2 separate regions of the Homo sapiens genome follow, and region 2 is linked to region 1. The links come from fine-mapping of genetic effects on gene expression. Tissue or cell type: whole blood. Region 1 holds a variant in brackets; the other region holds the start of a gene. All regions are shown on one strand. Distances are between the middles of the regions.

Evidence for each region. PIP is the estimated chance that this variant, and not a neighbour inherited with it, causes the effect.
Region 2: ORAI3 starts here. The variant in region 1 is fine-mapped to the expression of ORAI3 in whole blood (TOPMed, PIP 0.97).

Annotation. Positions count from the first base shown.
Region 1 is chr16:30,785,177-30,793,275 of GRCh38, reverse strand. It overlaps ZNF629 (zinc finger protein 629), which reads left to right and starts at 6,071. Exons shown (of 3, transcript NM_001080417.3): 1 at 6,071-6,248. RefSeq lists an enhancer at 6,002-6,121. The variant T/A (reference allele first, on the strand shown) is at 3,413.
Region 2 is chr16:30,944,720-30,952,818 of GRCh38, reverse strand. ORAI3 (ORAI calcium release-activated calcium modulator 3) reads right to left here and starts at 3,751. Exons shown (of 2, transcript NM_152288.3): 1 at 3,302-3,751. The coding sequence starts at 3,529. FBXL19 (F-box and leucine rich repeat protein 19) reads right to left here. Exons shown (of 11, transcript NM_001382779.1): 10 at 5,871-6,089; 11 at 4,036-5,767. The coding sequence ends at 5,589. RefSeq lists enhancers at 1,878-2,395, 2,396-2,625, 2,914-3,432 and silencers at 3,356-3,405, 3,446-3,705, 4,076-4,325.

The DNA.
Region 1 (8,099 bases):
AACCTGTTCTTTACTTTTTAACAAATTAAAGTAGTAATAAAGGCAGAGTAGTTTACCTAGCTAGCTTCTTTACTCATTCGATCTTAAAACTAACTTTTGATGTACCAGATGCTTAAGTGCTTTTTAATCGGGAAGTCCGCAATGTCAATTACCTTCTAATGGTGTTGACTCAAGCTTTTGTTAATTAATCTTACTGAATAAATATGAGTCTGACTAGCTGATCAGGGTCGCAGTCGCAACTGTTTACAGGACTCAGCACGGAGCCTGTAAGCGGCTTGGACCCTCAGCTGGAGTGGCAGAGCAGAGTATCTGTGTGCCGTTATACTTTATTCATCCATCGCCAGGTCAGGGGTCTGCAAGGGACAGACTCCCCGCAGCTGGTGCCCCCTCGAAAGGAGTGCTGCTGCAGGTTTGGACCCGGGTCTACCTCCAGGACCTCACTTTTTTGTTTGTTTTTTGTTTTGAAATGCAGTTTTGCTCTGTCACTCAGGCTGGAATGCAGTGGCACGATCTTGGCTCACTGCAACATCTGCCTCCTGGGTTCAAGTGATTCTCCTGCCTCAGCCTCCCAAGTAGCTGGGATTACAGGCGCCCACCATCATGCCCAGCTAATTTTTGTATTTTTAGTAGAGATGGGATTACAGGTGTGAGCCACCGCACCTGGCCAGGAACTCACTGTTATTGCAGCCCCTCGGGGCATAAGGCCCATAACTAAGAAGAGCATTGGGCCGGGCATGGTGGTTCACGCCTGTAATCCAAGCACTTTGGGAGGCCGAGGCAGGCAGATCATGAGGTCAGGAGTTCGAGACCAGCCTGGCCAATATGGTGAAACCCCGTCTCTACTAAAAATACAAAAATTAGCTGGGCGTGGTGGTATGTGTCTGTAGTCCCAGCTACTCGGGAGGCAGAAGAATCCCTTGAACTCAGGAGGTGGAGGTTGCAGTGAGCCGAGACCGTGCCACTGCACTCCAGCCTGGGCAACACAGCAACACTCGTCTCAAACAAACAAACAAAGAGAAGAGCATTGGGTGAGTTGTTCATGACAGGTGTGGGGGTGGGATCCTCTACATCCCTGCAAGAGCTCCCCTGCCAGGCAGGTTGCTGCCATGGCTGCGATGCCAGCTGATTGAGGGCAAGAGGACATGGCAGCCTTTATATCCCTAGGAGCAGGACACCCAGACTCTTCCTGGAGGATGTATTGGCCCAAATGGGGGTGCCCTGCCCTTCCCAGCTCCTCTCTCCAACTCTGAGGGAGAAGACGGAGGGACTGAGAGGCTCACCCTTGGGTCCCAGACACGCTTGGGCCCATCTGAGCAGGAGAGACGTGTTTAGGATCCACGGTGGCTCTGAAGTCACCGTGCGTGGATTTAAATCCACTCCTGCCACTGGTGACCTGTGTGCAAGTGACTTACCCTTTCTGTCCCAGGATGATAATAATAATGGTGCCATGAGTTGTGGAGGTTTAAGGAGTCATTACATGCAAACACAGTGCCTAGTGCATAAGTGCTCAATAAATGTAACTATGTCAGCAGGCACCATCCTCATGTGTTACTCTGGAGCTGGGCGTGGTGGCTTATGCCCATCATCTCAGCACTTTGCGGGGTGAAGATGGGAGGACTGCTTGAATCCAGGAGTTTGAGACCAGCCTGGGCAATATAGTGAGATCCTATTTCTATAAAAATATTTAAAAAATTATTCAGGAAGAAGTTTTGTGAGGAACAAAAAAATTTTAAATTAAGTTAGCCAGGCATGGTGGCACGCACCTGTAGCTTCAGCTACTTGAGAGGCTAAGGTGGGAGGATTGCTTGAGCGTAGAAATTCAAGGCTGCTGTGAGCTATGATCGTGCCACTGCACTCCAGCCTGGGTGACAGCAAGACACTGTCTCTAAAAATAAAAAATTACTCTGAACCTTGGAGACACAGACTAAGGGGTCCAGAATCTATACCTACAGTTAAACGGGAGTTGGAACATCAGCAGTGAAGGACCATTCATATAATGAAGCCACCTTGGCCTCAGGGTTGGGGACACAGAGGAATGACAGGGATGGTGACCAGCTGGCAGGTCAGTGCCCTGTAAAGACGCAAGCTGCCCAGCAACAGCCAGTTACTGACATGTGAAAATGTGGATCACGTTGCCACATCTTTGGATTTTCCAAAGAAGCAGGAAATTCAGGCCAGGCGCGGTGGCTCAGGCCTGTAATCCCAGCACTTTGGGAGGCTGAGGTGGGCAGATCACAGCGTCAGGAGATTGAGACCATCCTGGCTAACACAGTGAAACCCTGTCTCTACTAAAAATACAAAAAAATTAGCTGGTTGTGGTGGTAGGCGCCTGCAGTCCCAGGTACTCAGAAGACTGAGGCAGGAGAATGGTGTGAACCCGGGAGGCAGAGCTTGCAGTGAGCCAAGATTGCACCACTGCACTCTAGCCTGGGTGACAGTGCGAGACTCTGTCTCAATCAATCAATCAATCAATAAAGAAGCAAGAAATTCAATTTTTAATTTTTTTTTCTTTTTGAGATAGAGTCTTACTATGTCACCCAGGGTGGAGTGCAGTGGCATGATCTCAGCTGACTGCAACCTCTACCAACTGGGTTCAAGCAATTCTCATGCCTCAGCCTCCAGAGTAGCTAGGACTACAGGTGCATGCCACTATGTCCAGTCTCACTCTGTCACCCAGGCTGGAGTGCAGTAGTGCGATCTCTGCTCACTGCAACCTCCACCTCCCGGGTTCAAGCAATTCTCCTGCCTCAGCCTCCTGAGTAGCTGGGATTACAGGTGTGCGCCACTATGCCCAACTAATTTTTGTATTTTTAGTAGAGACGGGGTTTCACCATGTTGGTCAGACTGGTCTCGAACTCCTGACCTCGTGATCCGCCTGCCTCAGCAACCCAAAGTGCTGGGATTACAGGCGTGAGCCACTGCGCCCAGCCAGCCCCAGCTAATTTTTGTATTTTTAGTAGAGATGGGGTTTCACCATGTTGGCCAGGCTGGTCTTGAACTCCTGACTTCAGGTAATCCTCCCGCCTCAGCCTCCCAAAGTGCTGGGATTACAGGCATGAGCCACCATGCCAGGCAATTTTTAATGTGTGTTTTTTGTTGTTGTTGTTGTTGTTTGTTTTTTGAGACAGAGTCTTGCTCTGTCGCCCAGGCTGGAGTGCAGTGGCACGATCTCGGCTCACTGCAAGCTCCGTCTCCCAGGTTCACGCCATTCTCCTGCCTCAGCCTCCCAAGTAGCTGGGACTACAGGCGCCTGCCACCATGCCCGGCTAATTTTTTGTATTTTTAGTAGAGACTGGATTTCACCGTGTTAGCCAGGATGGTCTTGATCTCCTGACCTCATGATCCGCCTGCCTCGGCCTCCCAAAGTTCTGGGATTACAGGCGTGAGTCACTGCGCCCGGCCTAATTTTTTT[T/A]AAAATTATTATTATTATTATTTTGAGACTGAGTCTTGCTCTTGTTGCCCAGGCTGGAGTGCAGTGGCGCCATCTCGACTCACTGCAACCTCCACCTCCTGGGTTTTAAGTGATTCTCCTGCCTCAGCCTCCTGAGTAACAGGGATTACAGGTGCACGCCACCATGCCCAGCTAATTTTTTGTATTTTTAGTAGAGACAGAGTTTCACCATGTTGGCCAGGCTGGTCTTGAACTCCTGCCCACAAGTGATCTGCCCACCTCAGCCTCCCAAAGTGCTGGGATTACAGGTGTGAGCCACCTCGCCAAACCATCTTTTTTTTTTTTTTTTTTGAGATGAGAGTCTCGCTCTGTCACCCAGGCTGGAGTGCAGTGGCATGATCTCGGCTCACTGCAACCTCCACCTCCCAGGTTCAAGAGATTCACCTGCCTTAGCCTCCCAAGTGGCTGGGACTACAGGTATGTGCCACCACTCCCGGCTAATTTTTTGTATTTTTAGTAGAGACAGGGTTTCACCATGTTAGCCAGGATGATCTCAATCTCCTGACCTCATGATCTGCCCGCCCTGGCCTCCCAAAGTGCTGGGATTACAGGCATAAGCCACCGTGCCCTGCCCGGACTTTTTTTTTTTTTTTTGAGACAGGGTCTCACTCTGCCACCCAGGCTGGAGTGCAGTGGTGCAATCATGGCTCACTACAGCCTCCACCTCCCAGAATTAAGTGATTCTCCTGCCTCAGCCCAAGTAGCTGTGACCATAGCGATGCACCACCACGCCAGGGTAATTGTTTGTTTTTGTTGTTGTTGTTGTCTTTCTTTTTTTTTGAGACCGAGTTTTGGTCTTGTTGCCCAGGCTGGAGTGCAATGGCACGATCTCAGCTCACTGCAATCTCCGCCTCCTAGGTTCAAGCGCTTCTCCTGCCTCAGCGTCCCAAGCAGCTGGGATTACAGGTATGCACCACCACGCTGGGCTAATTTTTGTATTTTAGTAGAGATGGGGCTTCTCCATGTTGGTCAGGCTGGTCTTGAACTCCTGACCTCAGGTGATCCACCCACCTTGGCCTCCCAAAGTGCTGGGATTACAGGCATGAGCCACCGCGCCCTGCCCAGCTAATTGTTTTTAAGTTTTTTGTAGAGACAGGGTTTCACTATGTTGCCCAGCCTTCAAACTCCTGGGCTCAAGTTACCCTTCTGCCTCAGCCTCCCAAAGTGCTGGGATTACAGGCATGAGCCACCAGGCCTGGCCTTTAGCAATTTTTTCTCTTTCCTGTTTTCTCTTTTCCTTCCTTCCTTCCTTCCTTTTCTCTCTTTCTCTCCCTCCCTCCCTCCTTCTTTTTTTTTTTTTTTTTGCGACAGGATCTCACTCTGTCGTCCAGGCTGCAGTGCAGTGGCTCAATCTTGGCTTATTGCAACCTCTGCCTCCCGGGCTCAAGCGATCTGCCTGCCTCGGCCTCACAAAGTGCTGGGATTATAGGCATGAGCCACTGCGCCTGGCTAATTTTTGTATTTTTAGTAGAGACATGGTTTCACCATGTTGTCCAGGCTGGTCTCAAACTCCTGACCTCAAGTGATCCGCCTGCCTTGGTCTCCCAAAGGGTTGGGATTACAGGCGTGAGCCACCGCACCCAGCTGCCTTTAGTAATTTCTGACCTTTGGTTTATTCTTCCCCCCAGCCTCTCAGTCTCTGGACAGAGCCCTCTGCACGCTCCCAGGATTCCTCTGTGTTTGTAACACATACACAATACCAAACTTCCCAAGGGTAGAAAGCCCAATTTCCATGCATCTCAGAGGTATGCCCACCCCAGTGTTAACCACAGTGCCCAGGAATAATAATGCAGTGTGTTGAACTGAAAGAATCAGGTGGCCTTAAGTACACCAGTCGCTTCTCACACCTTGGTTTCCTCCCCGGTGAAATGGGGATGATGGGCAACCTTATCCCATGGGACTGTGATAAGGAAGACAAGAAAGAAAGGCTGTAAAAATTGCGAGCATAGATAACTTGGACGTTGAGAGGCCACCAGTGTTCCTGGGTTTTTAAAGGTTTCTTCTGCTGTGAGCCGGGTGCCCTCTGAGCTATGAGAAAAGAGGTTCTCCCTCCTTGGCCAGGGAACCCCCACTGGCTTCTTTCCTGCCACCGTGAGCCTCAGTTTCCTCCTCTGAGGGGAGGTGTTTGGAGAAGAGGGGCTGGAACACAGGCTATTGCAAATCCTTCCCGGCTGTGCTTGTTCCTGCAGTCCCAACTCCTGCAGCCATGACTTCCATCAAGCATTAAGGCCATGTTTAGTGCGTAGGGTGTTCCCTCTCAGGTCTGCTCTGCCAGCCCCTGCTCCCACCCCAGCCCCATCCCAGGGTTAGTCCAAACAAAGACTGGCCTCAGGGGATCAGCAGCCGCCAAATCTGAGATAGGGCTTTCCGGGCGCGGCCGGCGGAGCCCCTGCGAAATGAAGAGCGGCCAGAAGCCCAGGGACCCTCGCGGGCATCGGGGCTCTCCCAGATGCCCACGCTGCCTGCTCCCACTGGAGACGGGGACAGGGGCGTCGTCCCAGCCTCCTCCCTGCTCCCACCGCTGTCCCCTTTTTTCCCCAGGCTGCGGGAGGCAAAGGGTTAAATCCCATAGAGCTGATGCTCTGACTCCAGGCTAGAGGGGCCCGGGAAGCTGGGGTCACTTCCTGCTCCGTCCCAGTCACCCTGAACTGGTCCCCGGGTCCTCAGCCTGGAATCACCCCTTGAGAAGGACCCCAGAGTCCTCGGCGCCCAGTCCGTCCCCCGAGGCAGGGCACTGAAGGGGTTAAGTCCCCTGGGGCTGGATTCCGCCTTCCGGCTTTTCCCAGACCCCAGAGCCGTGAGTTGGGGACGCCTGGGTTCCCGGGGGGTGGCCTGGAGTGCCCGGGACGGCCGCCGGGGAACAATGGGGCCCGGGAGGCGGGGGCCGGGAGCCCGGGCCTGAGCCCCCCACCCGCGCCCGGGGCTGTGGCCGGGGTGGGGGCGGGCGGGGGGCGCGGAGGGCCGAGGATTCTGGGAAGCGCGGGGGTCGGTGGCGGGGGAGGGGAGCCTGGGGATTCTGGGAAGAGGGATCGGCCGGGGCCGGGGACCAGCGCTGCCAGCGCAGCCCTGGAGGAGCCTGGCAGTGCTGGAAGGAGCCGGGACCCCGGGGGCCGGGGCAGGGGCGGATGCCCAGGCTCTGTATCAGCAGCGGGACGGGGGTCGCGGCTCCGGGGGAGCAGAAGTCCGGAGCCAAGCGGTGGGGGGGCCGGGCCGGGCGGCCGCATTCCCGCCGCCTCCATGTCAGGGTCACCCTGGGCCGTTCCCCACATCTCTCGGGAGGCGGCTCCTCATTCCCTCCCTCTGCAGTGGGGCCATCGCGAGGTCTCAGGCTGGCGTGCCTGGCGCCTGGGCTCCCAGCGCCTCGGCCTCCCTCGGTCTTCCCACGTCCATGCTCTGTGTCGGCCCTGTCATTAACCCTTTCCCTCCTACTCTGGACCACTAGGGGAGAATTTTTTGGAGACCATCGAGGTCCACAAACTCTTACCTGTCCCGAGCAAACACAGCAGGGCATCCTTCCCGGACCGGACATCAGGCAGCCCCCAGTGTGGCAGAGGTCTCCGCTTCCACCACCCCAAAGACACTTACAGGCGGGGAGGGGGGATTCTCGGAGCTTAAGTAGCTGCAGAGATGAAGAAATTAATTTACTTCCTAAACGCTAACTTCTGTCTCTCCTACCGCTCTTTGGCAGGGTGCAGCCAGTCTTGCTTCACCTTGGTCACCTCTCAGCGCCTCCTGCCATGTCTCCCTTGCCCCACTGCCCCTGTGCACACAGCGCCCACCTCACACAGCCATCCAAAGTTTCCAGGCCCCACCCAGGGATTCTCTGCAGGGTGTAAATGGTGTGGGACCTCCTTCAAGCGCTTTGTTCCTGTGGCCCCATTCCCTCATCCTGAACTCATCTCACCATTTTTGGAGTGACAGCTGGCTGTTTTTATTTATTTATTTATTTATTTATTTATTTATTTTACCAGGGGGCCACTTGGAACTCCTGCTCCTTTGCTGCCATCCCCTTGCAAACTGATCTTTAAAGGCATTAGACCAAACAGGTGTTCCAGGGGCTAGGGACATCTCACTCATTCATTCATTCAACAAAGTTTCTGGAGCACCTATTCAGTGCCAGGCTAGGCTTGGGAAACAGCCTCAAGAAAGCAGGACAAAAGGAGTAGAAGGAGGGTCCGGGCAGGAGTGGGGATAGGAGGGCTTTGGTGGGGAGTATGGTTCCAGCTCATGGGTGCAGACCAGCAGGCCTAGTCCCTGGGTCCAACTCCTCCTTTTCTAGCCTGGGAAACCTCTGGGTCCCAGGAATTTCTCCAGCCTATTCTCACTGCCAGCAGGCTCCCCATGAGCTGTCCTCATCACCTGTCTCCTGCCAGCCTCCCATGAGCATGAGTCTCACATGACTCCCAAGGTCACCTCGTGCTCTCAGAGACAGGGGTGAGCCAGATATGGAGCCCTGCTTTTATCATCTTAGCTCTGCCACTTCCCAGCCTTGACCTTGGAGAGGTTTCCCCAGGCATTGATGTACTAATCTGTAAAATGGACAGCCTGATTCCTGGGTCTCCTCACCAGGCTGTGGGAGGACTGGGTGAGAGAAATGACACCATGGCAGGCACTGGGTCTGCCGCAGGTGTTCACACAAGCATCCATC
Region 2 (8,099 bases), 160 kb before region 1:
TGGCACATGCCTGTAATCCCTGCTACTTGAGAGGCTGAGGCAGGAGAACTGCTTGAACCCAGGAGGCAGAAGTTTGAGTGAGCCGAGATCATGTGACTGCACTCCAGCCTGGGCAACAGAGCAAGACTCTGTCTCAAAAAAAAATTAAAAATAAAAATAAAAAAAAGGGCTGGATGACATGCTTCTAACAGGTTTACTGCATAGGGATCAAACAGCAGATTCTGGAGCTGGGCTGCCTGGGATCATTCTCTGCTCTAGCTGTGTAATCTTGAGCAAGTCAGTTCTCTGTGTGCCTCAATTTCCTATCTGGAAATAGAGATTGATAACAGCACCTCCCTGCCTTATAGGGTTGGTATAAACATTAAATGAAATATACATGAAATGGGCTGGGAGTGGTGGCTCACGCCTTTCATCCCAACACTTTGGGAGGCCGAGTTGGGCGGATCACCTGAGGTCAGGAGTTCAAGACCAGCCTGGCCAACATGGTGAAACCCTGTCTCTACTAAAAATATAAAAATTAGCCGGGCGTGGTGGTGTGCGCCTGTAATCCCGGCTACTCAGGAGCTTGGGAGGCTAAGGCAGGAGAATTGCTTGAACCCAGGAGGCAGAGGTTGCAGTGAGCCGAGATCGCACCACTGCACTCCAGCCTGGGTGACAGTGTGGGACTCTGTCTCAAAAAAAAAAAAAAAAGAAAGATAAGAAAGAAAAGAAAGAAAGAAAAAGAAAGAGGAAAGGAAAGGAAAAGGAAAAGGAAGAAAAAGAAAAAGAACAGTGCCAGGCACAGAGTAAGCACTAGGTATGTGTTTGCTGTTCTTGCTATAGTGAATGCTAAAGTCTGAGGACAGAGTTTACAAATCGGCACACTGTGGACCACTGCCAGCTTGCAGACGTGTTTTGCTTGGCTCACACAGTGTGTTTCTTAAAAAATGGAAGATGCTGCCAACTTGTAAAACTGAAGAGATTTCTTATATCCCTATTTCCAGATCCCCTTGAAAACTTGGAAGAACTAGCCACACTTGGCCTGCGTTCCTGCATGGCAACTATCAGCTCAAATCAGTCATGGCTGCTCCCCTTGGAAAGGTCATGGGGTCTCTCTTTTTTTTTTTTTGGTAGATGCCAGGTCTTGCTATGTTGCCCAGGCTGGCTGGACTCGAACTCCTGGGCTCCTAGGCTCAAGCGATCCTCCTGCCTTGGCCTCCCAAAGTGCTGGGATGAAAGGTGTGAGCCATCACCCCCAATGTCATGGGGTCTCTTGCTTGCTAGTCCCTACCCAGCCAATTTGGCATCCATATTACCTGCCTGGCCCTTTGCAAACATTTGAGTTGATGACCCTATTCTAGGAATTTATAAATTTGGAGTCTGGAACCAGACGGCTTAGGCTCAAATCCTGCCACTTACTTGCTGTGGGACCTTGGGCAGGTGTCTTAACATCTCTGATCCTCAGTTTCCTCATCTGTAAAATGGCCAGAGTAGCAGTACCCACTTTGTAGGCTAACAGATGATGTATATAAAGGCACTGAGGGCAGTGCCTGGTGCTTAGTGACAGCTGGATACAATTTGTATAATGCTATTCTAACTTAGGCCACCTGAGTTTCAGAAGCCCACTCTCTCCCCATCCCTGGTTCTTGTAGGGTCCATTCGATTGCTCTGGGCCTGGGGAAAGAAGAAGGTAGGTGTAGAGGCTGGCGGGTGGAGGTAGGAAAACAGGGCTGAGTATTTTGGGAAATTGGGCCATGGCAGGTGTCAGGAGGTGTTTTCCACAGACAGGGATCTGGGCCAGGCTTAGTCCTGGTTTCTCCCAGAGCCTGGCCCAGCCTCGGTCACCCCTGCTAGGACTGCGGCCAGTCCTGCCCCCGGAACCTAAACCTCCAGCCCCTTCCTCCTGCAGAGAAGGCTCGGGCCCTTAAGCTGTCACCCCAGCAACCTGCACCTGCATATTCTGCCGTGGAGGGATTGTCTCCTTGGGAACAGGCTGGACCATGGGGTTGACCTCCCTCAGCTTGGGTGGCTGCTCCCTTCCCTCTGCAGGCTGTGCAGATGAAGGGGAGCCAACATCCTGTCCCTAGGTGATGCCCCCATCATGAAAGGTAAGCTGGTCTGTGGATTCTGGGACCCCACATAGAAGACCATAGGCTTATGATGACCCTTAGGGTTAGAGAGTTTCCCTGTCATTGTTCAAATATGGAGGTTGTGGCACAGACAGGGCAGGGACTAGCCCAGATCCCCTAGCGCCATGGTCCCCACCCCAACCGCCTCTGATATCCACCCCCACAGGAGTGCGTTCCCCAAAGTACCTCCTGCAGCTCACTTTCTCCTTTTTCCTGGGGTGATGGTGGGGCAACCCCAGACTAACAGAGCAGCAACCCTGGGTCCCAGTTCATTCGCTCCTGCCCAGAGGCAAGGCTTTTACTTTCCACACCTGTCCAATTAGCAGGCTAGTCTGAGCCATCCTTGGTACGTGACCTGCTCTGACATGCCTGGCTCACCCTGGGGCGGTTACTTGGCTGGCTACAGAGGGCGCACCCTCCATGATCTCAGTTTCCCACTGGCTTGCAAGCGGGGTGGAGGCCTGTCCAGGGTCACACAGCTGGCCACAAGCAGGGAGGAGCCAGGACTGTGTCTGCTGATCCTCACCCTGGGACCTCCCTCCATCCCACTTCCTGTGAGGCCACTGCTGGGGCAGACCGTTAGCCAACACCGTCCTCCTGCACCTGGGGTTTATCAGCTTGAGACTCGCTTATCAGTTTCCTCATCAGCCTCCTTCCCCAGCGGTTCCCTCCCGGGCATGATCTCTTGTCAGTTTTCCTGGTTGACACTAGCACCCCTTGGGCCCGCTGGAGAGTGGCCACCTTCCCTGGGACGGGCCCACCTTCAGCTGGGTGACCCTTCCACCCAGCTAATCCATCTCGAGCCCCCCACCTGTTGATGCAGCCCCCACCCAGCTGACCTGCCTTTGAAGCTGGCACTGGGACTTAGGAACCACTTCTGCCAGGTACAGGCTCCATCTGGACCACTCTGCCTCACTGTTGCAGTCAACCCCACCAGCGATTTGTTCACCCCACTCCCACTACGACACCTTTAGGACTTTCGTGTCCTCCGGTGGCCCCGTCTCCTGGGGTCCCCTGTACACACACATCCGTAAGAAGGGACTTGCTCAGTCCCGCGGGACCTTGTTCCTTCCCCCTTTGACGAAAGCCCCCTTTAACCTGTCTCCCTTGGGACCTGTTTACTTCGCCCCCCCCCCGACCTGTGCCCCCCACTTGCTCTGCCCCACCGGGTGTGACCCCTCCCGGCCCCTCACCATGGCGAAGCCCGAGAGCAAGGCAGACGTGCGGCTGGAAGCTTTGAGCTTGGCCCGGCTGAGGTAGAGGCGGCGCCAGCTGAGCGCCCGCAGCGAGTGCTGACTGGCCCCCATGAGGTCCAGGTAGCCGCGGTGCACGAACTCCCGGTACGTGGCCGAGCCTGCAGGGCTCTCGCCCTCAGGGTTCAGCGGGGCCTGCTCGCCCGCGTCCCCCTCGCCGCCCTTCATCCTGGGGGGGGGGCGGCACCAGGCGGTCACTACGGGGCGGAAGCGCCTCGGGGGCCCCAGCCGGGCCGGCCCAAGCCCGGGGGCGGCCCCATTCCCAGACAGGACGAGCAGGATGCAGGCGGCGGGCGCCCAGGAAGAGGCACCCCCAGTGGAGCAAGAAAAGCAGCGTCTGCGGGGAGCCCCAGGAGCCGGAGCGGGACAGCGGAGGCCAAAACAGGAACTGGGACAGAGGCGGAGCCGGGGCTAGCCACATGATGGGGTGGAGCCGGGGACCAAGTCCCCGCAGTCCCGGGCCCGCAGAGATTCCCCGCGACCCCTACCCACCAAGAACGTTATCCAAGCGCCCGGACCCCACCGAGGTGCACGCCAACCCCAGCCCCCTCCAAGGTACAGCTGGACACCCCAGGTGTCCACACTTCCAAATCCCTCCCAAAATGAGTCCAGGAGAGGTGAGCCCACTCATCTGTAGGTAGGGACCCCGCAGATACACACACGAACTCCGCAGCCCCGGCTGGAAGATTTTGAGTTTTATAGCAAACCGTATTGTACAGACCCGGGGCCCAGGGGCCCAGCCCGGCTGGGTCCCCCGCTTGCCCCTCGCCGGGCTGCCTCTTCCCTCCCCCAAGCGGCCCCATTCTCAAGCCTCTCGCTATCCCCAGGCCCCACCCCTCCGGCCTTTGGTCCGCCCAGCCCTCCCCCCACCCGCGCACCTCCCTGTTACCTGAGGTATGTGGATAGATCTCCCCTCCCCTACATGGTAAGCCCCGGCCCCCCGGAGGCCTGCGCGGAGGGGCGGGACCTGGCCCGGCTCATCCCCGGGGTCCCGAAGCCCCACCCCGCGCTCGAGGAAGGGGCAGGGAAGGAGGGCCAGCAGAGTCTGTTACTAGGTTCCCATGGCAACTAAGAGGGGGCCATTTCCAGCCTTAGCACTGGCATCGGGAGGTGTCCGTTGGCTGCTATTTCCATGGCAACCAGGAGTGGCAGTTCCCTGGGCAAATGGGATACAAGTTTCCATGACGATGAAAGAGTGGGAAGAGCCAGGCTGGAGGAGTCCCATGGTCCCCATTCTTGGGCTGGCGCCCCCAGCCATAATGCGGGTCCGGCGGGTGCCGCCGCTCAATACAGTAAAACAAGAACAAGCCTGGGGGTGGCGCAGTCCCAAATGGGCGCCCACCGGCCCGGTCTCAGGTCTCAGTCCAAGCTGGTCCAGTCCCCTCACACCCCGGCTCCCCCAGGTCCGAGATTCCCCCGGTTCAAGTAACACTTCAGTACAGATGAATGTTCAAGTATTGTGCGGAGAGGCGGGCAGGGGGTTGGGGCGCCCCTCGCCACTCCCCTGGGCCGCGAGCTGAAGAGCGGCTGCCCGCGGCCCCCACTCCTTGCAATAGCTGCCGTTTTCAGTGACGTTCAAGGAGTCAGGGTCAGGGGGAAGGAACTGAAGCCTGGGGAGGGGGGAAGCAGAGAGGTGACCCCCAAGGGGGTATTGCTGTCCCCACACCTGCTCTCATCCCCACCTCCAGCTCAGCCCCAGCTTGCCCCTGGTTCCCCTACCTCTGACACCTGGATCCCCAATTGCTCCTCCGGTTTTCCTTTTGTGGCCCCACCCCCACCCCCCACTCCAAGTAACTGGTCTTTGTTCCCTGAACCCTTGGTGGTCTGCTGTCTGCCCCGCCCCCCGCCCCTTCCACCTCCCCCAGCCCCTGGCTCCCATATCCTGTGTGTGTCCTTTCCCCATTCTCCCCCCCAACACTTGCACCATAACCCCCCTCCCACCGTCCCTTCGGCTCAGCACCCTCCAGTACCTCTGACCCACTCCCCCAGGGGATGGACAATGAAGCAGGTAGCAGGGGCAGGACATAGGAAGGAGAAACCCCCAGAGATATCAGTGCAGGGGGGAAAGAAGGGGGTGGCTGGCTTGAGTCCCTGGGTGGGAATCCCAAGTCACTGACACTCAGGAATCCCAGGGTGGTGAGGTGGGAACCTGGCCTCCCAGCAGGGGTGAAATGAAGCCGGAGGTCCAGGCTCCTGTCGAGTCCGGGGGAGGGTGGGGGGCGCCCAACTAGCTGTCCTTGAGAAGCAGCTTCTCCTCAGGGCAGCGGAAGGGGCCAGGGGGCCCGGCAGCTGCCAGCCGGGCACAAGCTTCGGGTGAGAGCTGGCGGCAGGAGCGCAGGTCTAGGCGGCGTAGACGAGGGCAGCGGCGGAACAGCGGGAGGCAGTGGTCCGTTAGGCGGTGGCAACCTGGGGATGGGGCAGTGGAGCTGAGACCAGGCAGGTGAGCAAGGGGTTGGCACTGGCCGTGGGGATCCACAGGCTGGCAGGACGGATGGGGGACCGTGCTTACCAGCAAGATTGAGGTGCACCAGGGTCTCGCGGAGTGGGGACGTGGGGGCCGTGAGGAGGTGAACACTGGGGTCCCCGACGTGGGCGCAGTGGCTCAGGTCCAGGGCGCTCAGCTGGGGTGCGTGACGCAGCAGGAGACGCAGGGAGGCATCTGTCAGCTCCAAACCTGCCAGACGCAGTTCTGCCACCCCCTGCAGCCGACCACGGCTCTCTGTTTGCCCTGGGCAGCCAGATGAGAGGTCAGCACTCCTGGCCACTCCCATCCCTGCGCCCAGGTATCCAGACCATCTGCCCTCCACCTGCTTCCCACATAAGTGAGTGACCTGGTGCACTCTGTGGCTTGCTCTTCTCAAAAACACCCTCATGGCCTGACCTCATCTGTCCACTCCTCACATCACCTCCTCGGAGGCCTTCCATGATTATTGTATTTGAGACTACAATATTCTGCCAGGCGTGGTGGCTCATGCCTGTAATCCTAGCACTTTGGGAAGCCGAGGCAGGCGGCTCACTTGAGGTCAGGAGTTCGAGACTAGCCTGGCCTAACATGGCAAAACCTTGTCTCTACTCAACATACAAAAATTAGCCGGGTATGGTGGCAGGCGCCTGTAATCCCGGCTACTCAGGAGGCTGAGGCAGGAGAATCACTTGAACCCGAGAGGTGGAGGTTGCAGTGAGCCACGATTGTGCCACTGCACCCCAGCCTGGGCAACAGAGCGAGACTCCATCTCAAAATAAATAAATAAATAAATAAAAGAGTCTGTGACCTCCCCTCCTCTCTCTTGCTGTCTTGCCATGTGACATGCCGATTCCTTCACGTTCCATCAAGAGTAAAAGCTACGTGAGGCTTCCCCAGAAGCTGAGCAGACGCAGGCACGATACTTCCTGTACAGCTTGCAGAATCCTGAGCCAATTCAACCTCTTTTCTTTATAAATTACCCAGCCGAAGGTATTTCTTTATAGCAATGCAAAAACTAATGTAATTCTCCACACTCCTACCACTTCCTTGCATCATTTTTTCCTCTTTTTCTCACCATTTGACATATTATATGCATTTTTCTGACATACATACGTTTTCCTTTTTTTTTTTTTTTTTTTTTTTTCCCCGAGACGGAGTCTTGCTCTGTCACCCAGGCTGGAGTGCAGTGGTACAATCACAGCTTACTGCAGCCTCAACCTCCCTGTAGCTCACTGTAGCCTTGATCCTCCCACTTTGGCCTCCCAAAGTGCTGGGATTACAGGCCTGAGCCACCGCACCTGACCAGAGTTTACTTTTTTTTTTTTTTTTTTGAGATGGAGTCTCACTCTGTAACCCAGGATGGAGTACAGTGGTGCAATCTCGGCTCACTGCAACTTCCACCTCCCAGGTTCAAGCAATCTCCTTGCCACAGCCTCCCAAGTAGTTGGGATTAAAAGCATTTGCCACCACGCCTGGCTAATTTTTTGTATTTTTTTAGTAGAGATGGGGTTTCACCATGTTGGCCAGGCTGGTCTCAAACTCCTGACCTCAAGTGATCTGCCCACCTCGGCCTCCCAAAGTGCTAGGATTACAGGTGTGAGCCACCATGCCCGGCCCAGAGTTTACTTTTTTAACAAGTTCTCCAGTTTTGTGGATGCTGCTGGTCCCCCGACCACACTTTAAGAACCACAGCCTTGGGAGACAAGATCTCTGATCATCATTCCTGTTTACAGCCAGGAAACCCAGGCCTGGTGATGCTGAATCTGAACTCTTACCACAGTGTTGTCTGCCTCCCAGGCACCAGCCTATCCCTAAGATAAACTATTAATAGATCAGATGGCACAAACCATGAGGCTGCCCTCCAAACATGTTTTATGGAGTCTACAGAATGCTAAAAACTTCCTTAATGACTAACACTACAAAAAGGACATTTTTATAAATAAATTTACATACTGAGCTTTTCCTTGAAGAATCGTAAGATGTGGCCTCACTAGGCACTCCTTCCCACCAGATGATGACTGAGGGGAGCTGGGTGGCTAGGTGCCACTCCCTAATGTCCTACACCAATGCATCACTTCTGTTACCTCCCAGGCCAACTCTATGGGCACTTGACTTTGCAAGCCCTAAATTTTAACCCCTCCTCCTGTCTTTGAGGAGCCAAGCGCCTGGAGAGGGGATACCTTTACAGATGCCCTCAACCTTGGGCCACAGCTAAAGGCACAAGGAGGAAAGGCCCATAGAGGAAAGCAGAGGAAAGAGAAGTCACTTCTGGCT